Homo sapiens: one gene and its partner. The protein of the gene in region 1 interacts with the protein of each later gene in a pairwise test. Each region holds a gene or a part of one and is shown in the gene's direction. Other genes may lie near its edges. The genes, in order: NRIP2 and ELF5.

What was found.
Region 2: the proteins of NRIP2 (region 1) and ELF5 interact in a two-hybrid assay, tested with the Homo sapiens proteins (one large-scale study listed by BioGRID and IntAct).

What each region holds. Positions count from the first base shown.
Region 1 is NC_000012.12:2,832,207-2,836,767, reverse strand, and holds the start of NRIP2 (nuclear receptor-interacting protein 2), read left to right. Parts: upstream 1-1,732; 5' UTR 1,733-1,784; coding exon 1,785-2,126; intron 2,127-4,551; exon of another isoform or gene 4,552-4,561. UniProt on the Homo sapiens protein: Down-regulates transcriptional activation by nuclear receptors such as NR1F2.
Region 2 is NC_000011.10:34,510,707-34,515,127, reverse strand, and holds the start of ELF5 (ETS-related transcription factor Elf-5), read left to right. Parts: upstream 1-1,333; 5' UTR 1,334-1,451; intron 1,452-3,403; exon of another isoform or gene 3,404-3,558; coding exon of another isoform or gene 3,559-3,584; intron 3,585-4,421. UniProt on the Homo sapiens protein: Transcriptionally activator that may play a role in regulating the later stages of keratinocytes terminal differentiation. Isoform 2 binds to DNA sequences containing the consensus nucleotide core sequence GGA[AT].

The sequences.
Region 1 (4,561 bases):
TTCTCTCTGCGTCCCACTTCCTCCTTTTAATAAGAGCGCAGTCATATGGGAGTAGGCTCATCCTAATGACCTCATCTTAACTTCACCATATCTGTAAAGGCCCTATCTCCAAATGAGGTCGCCTTCTGAGGTACTAGGGGTTAGGGGTACATTTGGGGGGTGAAGGAAACAATTCAACCCATAACACTTTCTTTCCCTCTAAATGGGGATTAGAATACAGTATTTCTTCATATAATTGCAGTGGTTGTGAAAGTGTCTCAAAGAGGCTTGGTTCCTAGAAGCTCAGCAGACATCTGGTTTGTCTGAAAGTACATGTGCCTTGGAGCTGTCTGAGTCAGACTGCACCCTTAGGGAGCAGGGCTCAGGTGGGGTAATCACCCTGTGAGCATCCAACACAGGTAAACAGGTGCTTGGCCAATGCGTTTCCCTGATGGTGAAGAGGAAAGGCTGGAGAGAAAAATCTGCTGATAAGCCAGGGCTAGAAAAAGTCTGATACCAAGTCCTGGAGAGGATGTGGAACCTCAGGAGCCCCTGTGTGCAGCTGTCTCAGTGTGCACTGGTAAAAACACTCTGGCAATATGCCAAAAAGGCAAAGCTGTATATGGGATGCCCCAGCAATTCCACTCCTAGGTGTAGGTGTATACTCTAGAGAAATGCCTACATAGGTGCCCCAGGAGATGTGTGCAAAAATATTCATAGCAGCATTGTTTGTTAGACCTAAAAATGAAAAATAACCTACATTTCCTCAATGTCATGCATGCATCTAATGGAATACTATGTTACACAGCAGGTGAAGTCAATTAACTAGAGCTGGGCATACCGTATGGATGAATCTCACTAACAAAAACTATTCAGCAAAAAAGAGCAGATTGCAGAAGAATAAATACAGTGAGTAGGACAAAACCAACGACATATTGCTTAGAATGCATATGTAAGTATTTGCATAAAGAATATAAAGAAGTCTGGGCCTGATAAACACCAATTTCAGCAGGCGGAAGTGGAAGTGCACAGGGAGCTTCAACAGCTTATTTTTTAAACTGGTGATGAGTGAAGAGTACTGGTTATCTTATTCTTTATAACTTCTGTATATTTGAAATGCAACATTTTTTAAAGAGCCAGGACTTGAGGAGAGTCATATAAAGGAGACTGAGATGCCAGGGACAATTTCTACTCGTGGGAAGATTCAGAGTTGTTCCTGTCATTCCCTGGAACCCAGAATCCAGAGTCAATTAGTTAAAGACTCTGACATCTGCTAGGCGGGAGGCAAGAGACCTAACAAGGTAAGGCTAGGGGGATGAGAGGAGGGAAGGACGCTCTCATGCTGCCCCTCTTTGATCTGAACCCAGTTACTGGCCTGCGCGCCAGCCCTGGGCTGCAGATAATGCCAGGAGAAAACAGCTGGGCAGTCCTGGGAAGCCTGGGAGGGATGCAGAGGAGGGCGGGGGCCACACACGCTGGGAGGTGCACTAAGGCTGCTGCCCCCACACAGTGACAAGCGCTTCCTCGCAAACCACCTGGCACGGGCACCCTGACAGTTTACAGCACTGTCTCTCACTCTCCTTCTCTCTCTCTCTCTCACACACACACACACACACACACACACACACATACGCCCCATCCACCGCCCGCTCTGACCAGGACCCCAGCGTTGGGGATGCGGCCAAGTCAGCCAGCTGTGGGCCCTGCCAACCCTCCCTCTCTTCTAGGACTGGGTTTTTCCAGCCGGAGTCTCACTCCCTCTACAGCAATCTCGGGAAATTGGAGACTGACGCGGCTGCTCCTGCATGTTATTTATTTTTCCTCTTTCCCTCCCGTGGAGACCCTCCTGTTGGAAAGAGAGCTGCAGCACGGGACAGAGACAGGCAGGAAGAAGCAGAGAGGACTCGGTGACGCCCCCACCGAGCAGCCCCTGGCCCACTCCTCCAGCAGGGGCCATGAGCACCAAGCAGGAGGCCAGGAGAGATGAGGGAGAAGCCAGGACGAGGGGGCAGGAGGCACAGCTTCGAGACCGAGCCCACCTGAGCCAGCAGCGCCGGCTCAAACAGGCCACCCAGTTCCTGCACAAGGACTCGGCCGACCTGCTCCCGCTGGACAGCCTCAAGAGGCTCGGCACCTCCAAGGACTTGGTGAGGCATCACCCCTCCCCTGCCAGCGTCCCCTGGCCTTTTCCTTCCACTTCCCAGATCCTGAGCAGGAGGCAGGACCAGAAAGTGCAGACCCTCAGCTTTCAGGTCCCGCTCCCTTGCTGAGATGGGGAGAGGTCATCCTGCCAACTCAAGGCTCTTCACCGGGGATGTTCCCATGGTTTGGTGGCTCTGAGGGTTCCTATTCTCTCATTGCTTGGCTTCCCTTTTTCCTCTAATGGCCCCAAACTTGAGGGTGGTGAGGAGCTAGGCTGTTTAGAAGTGGGGGCTTACAGGAACACAGGAACCCTCTAGAGTGGTCACTTACAACCAGGAGGGCCTGGAGGACTGGCCAGTTTAGGGTTGTGACTTCCTGCTTCCCCCGAACCACAGGTTCCCCAGACCAGGTCTGTCTATCCACTTGTCCTTTCTCCTCAGAATCAAAACATCGGGGGTCTCCATCCTTCCCAGGGCATCAGGGTTTTGTGTGGCTCTTGCCGGGGGCCCCTGGCCGCCTTGAGTGCTGCTCCCCCAACTCCTGAGTGGAATGGACCTTCCAGGCTCCTCTCCTCCCATCCCATGTCTGCAGCAGCTTTGGCCTCAGAGGAATGGGGCAGGGGAGTAACAGTGAGGATGTGAGTGGGCGGCGGAAAACTGCAGATTCAGGCATTCCCCTCTGAGAGGCAATGCTGACAAGCGGGGCTGCGCAGCCACTTCGCTTGGGATCAGATCCTGGCTCTGCCATTTACTAACTTGTGCAATTGACTTTACGTCTCTGTGCCTCAGTTTCTTCATCTGTTAAATGAGAATCAAATCAATCATAGGATTGTTGGGAGAGTTGTTAGAGCTAATATATTTAAAGCACTTAGAACAGTGCCTAATAGCAGGCACTATCTAAATGCTATTATTATTATTCCCCCAGCTATTACTCCATTTAGTCTGAGAAATATTCCTGGCCTCTGACCCGTGGAAGAGAGGAAATCCTTTGTAGAAAGGCTTGGGAGCACTCGGTTCCCTGTCCCCTCTCCTAGTCTGAGAAGAGGTACTCAACCAGGCCTGTACTGACAGGTTGGAAGCATGTCTGCAGGCCTGTGCTCCACCAACTGCTTCTCCCCGGGAACCTGAAGGCCAGTGCAGCACCTCGCCTTTCCCTACTTAGCTCCACCTTTCCAGACTCCTCTCAGCCTGGGTTGCCCCCACCAGGACCACAGCCCAGAGGTCTGGCAATTCCCTAGCTCCCAACGAGAAAAGGGATTGCACTGAGACTTAATTCAGGGAACTGCCAGGGGCTTATTCCTACTTGCAGTGGCAGCAAGCATAGCTGAAAAACAGGGATGGAGCAGGGAAGCGGGTTCTTCGGCTCTCAATGGCTGGAACCTACTGGGGACCATCCTACATGTGTTTGGCCCCAGGAGAAGGTGCTCTACTGACATTGCCATCCCGGAGTGGCAGGTCCCGCCTTCTAATGAGAAAGTCCCGGGCTTTTCACCTCTCCCCTCTGCCTAGGATATCCCCAATTGATCCCTAGCAGTTACCTCCTATGGCTCTGGGAGCAAAGGCACAACAGGCAGGGAAGACCCCATCGTCTCCCTCCCTGGGATGGCTGAGGAGCAAACTGCACAACAGCGGGAGGGGCCTGAAGCCTGTGTTCATCGTGGGAAGGTGGAAGATGGGAAGTGCAGAGCCAGTCTCTCCAGCCAATCCCAGAGCTCGCTGAACTTTTCCCAGCACTGGGTCTACTGCTGGCAGCCTTGCTGCCAGGAGCAACCCCAAGGGCCTCATTAATCTAAGGGTAGAAAAACAATCCCAGGATCCCAAGGAGAGAGGGCAGGTGGAGAGGTGCATAGAGCCTGGGGGAAGAGTCAGTCTGCAGCAAGCATTTATTGAGTGCCTACTAGATGCTGAGCCATGCCCTGGGATATAAAAATGAGTGAGGTAGACTCAAGCGCTCTCCAGGCTAATGGGGGAGTAAAATCCATACATAACATTTGTGAGAAGCATGGAAAAGGGAGCTAAGACAAGGGACCCCAGCTTGGCGTGTATGGAGAGAGGAGCATGAAGAACTCAGAGAGGGTATCCTGGAGAGGGTACATCCTGCATTATAGGATGTACACAGAATCTCAAACTTAAGATACAACCTCTCTCTCAAATAAAGTGTGTTAAGCCAGTCATCCAGTCTAGCCTCGAGAAGAGTGAGGAAGAGGAGTTTCAGGAAGAGAGGAGAGAGGAGAGAGGAGTGAAGACATGGAGGCAAAAAGCGGCCTGGTATGAGCGGTGCTTCTGGGGCCCATAAACAGAGTGGCAGGGAAGGAGGCACGGCCCGGTCATGTGGACTGTGGATCACCTTCAAAAGCTTGAGCTCTATCATGAAAGCAATGCGGGGTAGGGTGGGGGGTCTTTGATGCATTTTAAATAAGAGAAGACATGGTTAGTTTCAT
Region 2 (4,421 bases), on another chromosome or scaffold:
GTGGGACTATCACAGTGCACAGTCCCCTAGAAACCAAAGAGGAAGAGAAGTACAGAATTTTAAAGCTTGAAAGAGGCCCAAAGACCATGTAATCCAGTTACTTGCAAACCCTTTCTAAGGGCAGATTCTTTTGTTCAAATGAAATCTTACCCGGAAGATTTATATAAAAGCTGAGATGCTCTTATTGAGTCAGGAAGGAACGGGGTGGTCTAGAGCCTAACCCACTCTACTCCACTCCCATCCTCTCACCCGCAAAAGTCCTTGTAAGGGCTCCAGGGAGCCCCTGGGGTTCCTCAAGTCACAGTTTGAAAAAAATCACTATTTCAATCCCACTTCCTCCTTTTGCCACTGGGGAAAAATGAAGCCCAGAGAAGTCCAGGTTACCCAGCCAAGATAGGGGTCTAGGCAGTCACCTATCTTCCTTCAACAATTTTTCCATGATGACACCCCGAATCCTCTCACGAACTGCCTTTTGTTTCTGCAGACTATATGCGTATTTGTATTTGTGTGTTTGTAACCATGCCCGGTGATCCCAAGAAAACATAACAAACCAGTCCTTGCTTTCGCTTTAAAGCTTGGAGTCTGCCATTTGAATACAACATCTCGGCTGCCCAAGATGGCTAGAAGCAGAATGCAAAAAGGCACAGGGTTATAAATACCTGTCTCATAGATGACCTGGGACACTGTGCTTTGCAGCCTAAATTAGGCAGAGTTTCTGTTGTCACGAAGAAGTACTAAAAAGCGGGCAGTTCTCAGCGAGACACCTGAGAGCTGGCATCCACATGAGGAGAGGCCCCATCACTTACATTACACTCATGAAGCCCAGAGATGTTAGCTACATTTTTCTAGGTAGCACAGCTAGGAAATGATGGACACTGAATTTGAATCTAAAGGCAACTAGCTGCAAAACCTGAGGTCTTAACACTGGGCCTATAATGCTCTTCCTTCTCACCACATGGGAAAAACGGAGAAAGACATGATCTTACAAAAGCACTGGGCTCAGCCAGCCTGGGAGAGAGGCAGCGCAGACCGGCACCAGGGTGGAATCTCTGTGTTTCCCCTCCAGCTTGCACAGAGGAAAATTCCTCACCAAACGCACGATCCCCGCACAGCTCCCAGGGACAAGAATTTTCTGCTTGTTTACTGAGTCCCCTGGGCTGGGAGTGGGGGGTTGCAGGGCAGGGGTGAGCTGCGCACAAAAGCAGGATAAAGGTAAACTTTCTGCATATGAGAACCATTTCCCCCCCTCCAAGGAGCCGTGTCACACTGTATGTCACCGTCATCAAAGGGGCTGTGCGTAAACCTGAAAAACCAAACGGACCTGTCTGTAGGTGTCACTTATATCACAAGGCTACAGGTGTCTTTATTTCCACTGCACGCTGGTGCTGGGAGCGCCTGCCTTCTCTTGCCTTGAAAGCCTCCTCTTTGGACCTAGCCACCGCTGCCCTCACGTAAGCGCCTTTTCTTTGCTTTTTTGGATGAATCGTAAGGGGTGTCAGGGCTCAGAGGCTCGGCCTGGGGCCTGGGTCTGCTCGTCCATCTCCAGCTCCAGGGCCGGCACCTGCGCTGGGTGCAGTCCCAGGGCCTCCGGGAGCTGTTTGACACGGATGTGACGGCTTGCCTCAGAGAGACCTGCTTGCCTCCGCAGGCCGTGTGGCCACCAGCCCTCCTCACAGCCACCACTCCCTCTGGATCCCTTAGCTGAACCAAGGGGAATTAAGAGAACGCGCCCAGGCGCTCAGTTCTCTATCCTCCCTAAAGCTTCTTTAGGAAGGGAAGCTGGATTTTACTCAGAAAAATATTCAGCTTCAAGGAAAGCCCCCCACCTACCCTTCTCCCCTGACTGAATTCCTTTCCCCACCGGCCTGCCCACTGTCCCCCACCCCCTCGATACAGAGAACTCCCTTATTATAGTTTGGGGCATTTTCAGGAATTTGTACAAAACAGTTTTAAAAGAAACCCATTTGCCCTCTGACATCTCCCCAGAAGAGAATGCTTCCAGAAAAGCAATGGTTAGCGTTTTTCCACTGTGTTCTCAGGCCTTGTCAGACTCTGCAGTGTGTGGGGTTTCTGTGGGGTTGCCCCCTGCTGACAGCGACAGGTAGCACAAGCTCCCTCCTCAGGCTGAAGCCGGGCCTGCGTGTGGATGCCTTTTGTACGCCCGAAAGTGTGTCAGACATCACTAGGTGCAATCGCTTCATGTTACAGATGAGGAAACTGAGGCCAGAAAGGCTAGATGACTTAGGGAGGCAGCTCTGTGGTTCAGTCTAGTCCAGAGACCCAGGGAAAGGGGTGGTTTGCCCATCCGAGTGAACGCTTGATTCTGTTGTCTTCGTGTTCTCTGCAATACTGTTTTTCATAATCTAAGGTATTCTCGGGCCGGAGTTTTCAGTTTGGTCATCTCCCTTTTTCAGAAGTCACCAGAGTGGCAAATTTTTAGATACATTGTTGATGGCTGATTTTTCCCTCTAAAACAGGATTGAATATATGTATTATGCCCCGTCCTTTGCATATATCGGATTGCATGATTTAAAAAAAAAAAAATCCCCATTTTAGAGATGAGGAAACCGTAGTTCGAAGAGGGGCATGAATATTTATATACCACATCTATATGAAAAAAAGCTTAAGAATTTCAGCAGTCTGGGTAGTAAGAAATGTGCCCCACGTTCGCAGCAGCAGAGGTAGGATTTAACCCCTGATATATGTAATCCAAAACTGGTAAGCTTTGCATCGAAGCCTACAGCAAACTACATGGCATACCTTTTTGGATCTTCGCTGCACCTTCAGAAAAACAGCTACAAACAAACAAACACGCAAACTCCCTAAGCGAGCTAAAGAAAAATGAGGAATCACTTGACAAGAGGTCAGCAAATTGGTTCTCACAGTTGCTAGGGTTCCTCTCAGAAGAACAAACCCTCAAGCACCCAACCCTCAATCTTTCTTTAGCAGTAAGTGTTGAAATACTCCACTGGGTTCTCCTCAGTGGGCCCCTTCTTAGGGAGGTCCAAGGGCTGGGAAATTGACCCTCCCTTGCTCACAAGTCTTGGGACGGAGTGGACATTTGGGTATCACTGAGGCTTTAAGGAAGGAAAACCGATTTTCTTCCCAATGATACCACTCAGAGGGTGGGGTTGAGGAAGCCCAATCTTGGCCACTTTTTTCTATATTTTGCACCCTATGGCCTAGTTCTGCCCAGTGATGATTTGGCCCGTAAACAGCCAATGTGTAGATGCTTAATTGGGCCAATTTTTGGTCACATGCCCAGAGTGAAGTTGATGATCACCACCAGAGTCAGGAAGGAATTTTCCTCCTCTGGCAAACTGGCCAAGGCTGAGTGGTTTGCTCCTTCCCCTCTCTCTGGGAGGCTGAGCAGGGGTGCCGGGTTGCTCAGGCCATGGGAGCCACACCTGTTATTGCTGCCTCTGATTTGTGTGACACTGAGAAGCCCACAGGCCTGTCCCTCCAACTCGGTGGACCCTCTCTGTGTGCATTTGGTGTGTGAGCCAGCTCTGAGAAGGGTTCAGAAGCCACTGGAGGCATCTGGGGACCTCAGCTTCCATGCCATCTCTGCCTCACTCCCACAGGTACCTGCAGCCAACTTTCTCATGTGTGAAGTGAGCCCACCTGATTCCACCACCTTGTGTTAATCATTCTTGAGCTTTTCCTACTTACTAGGCAGCTAGAATGATGACTACATTTGGGGGAAACTGATTCCAGCTTCCACGGATCTATCGGTGGGCAGTGAGTGAGGGTCCAGAGTGTTTAAGGTACCCAGCTAGGCTGGGCAAAGAATATCCAGTTGTCCTGAGGTATCTACCTCCAACTGGGGTAGAAGGCAGTGGGCACAGGAGAAAAGGGAGAAGAGGAAATCAGGGAGCTTTTTCAGCACTAAAAGTTCAGTCTGTGTGTAGTGGTTGGATTTTCCTCCAATTTGGTGGACTTGCTTGACCAAAAAAATGCAAATATAATCAATGTGTATGCATATGTGTGTGAGTGCCCAGGTTTGGATGTGTTGGCTCAATCAGGTGGGTGTCTGCAGAAAGTCACAGAGTTAGGGCAGACCTTGGGGGCTGTTTTATCTGTGTTCTTGTTTAGTAGTTGAAGAACTGAGATTTGGAGAGGGGCAAGAGGCAGAATCATAACTCCAGGCCCAGGGCTCCTTCCATGATGAGCCAGCTAGTCCCTCACAAAATGAAAAGTATGTCCAGAACAGCAGGCCAAGAGACCTCCCAGCAGATCCCTGTCTGTACTGGCGCTGACACTAGGTGGATCTATCACAGCGCTTCTCCACCTTTTTTTTATCACTTCTCCTAAGGACACTTTTTAGGTCATTTTTTCTTAATCATCTCCCCACCAGAAATGTGAGTACCAGAGATAAACTATACATCTACTGTAGACCTTTGGAGCATGATAAAACACTG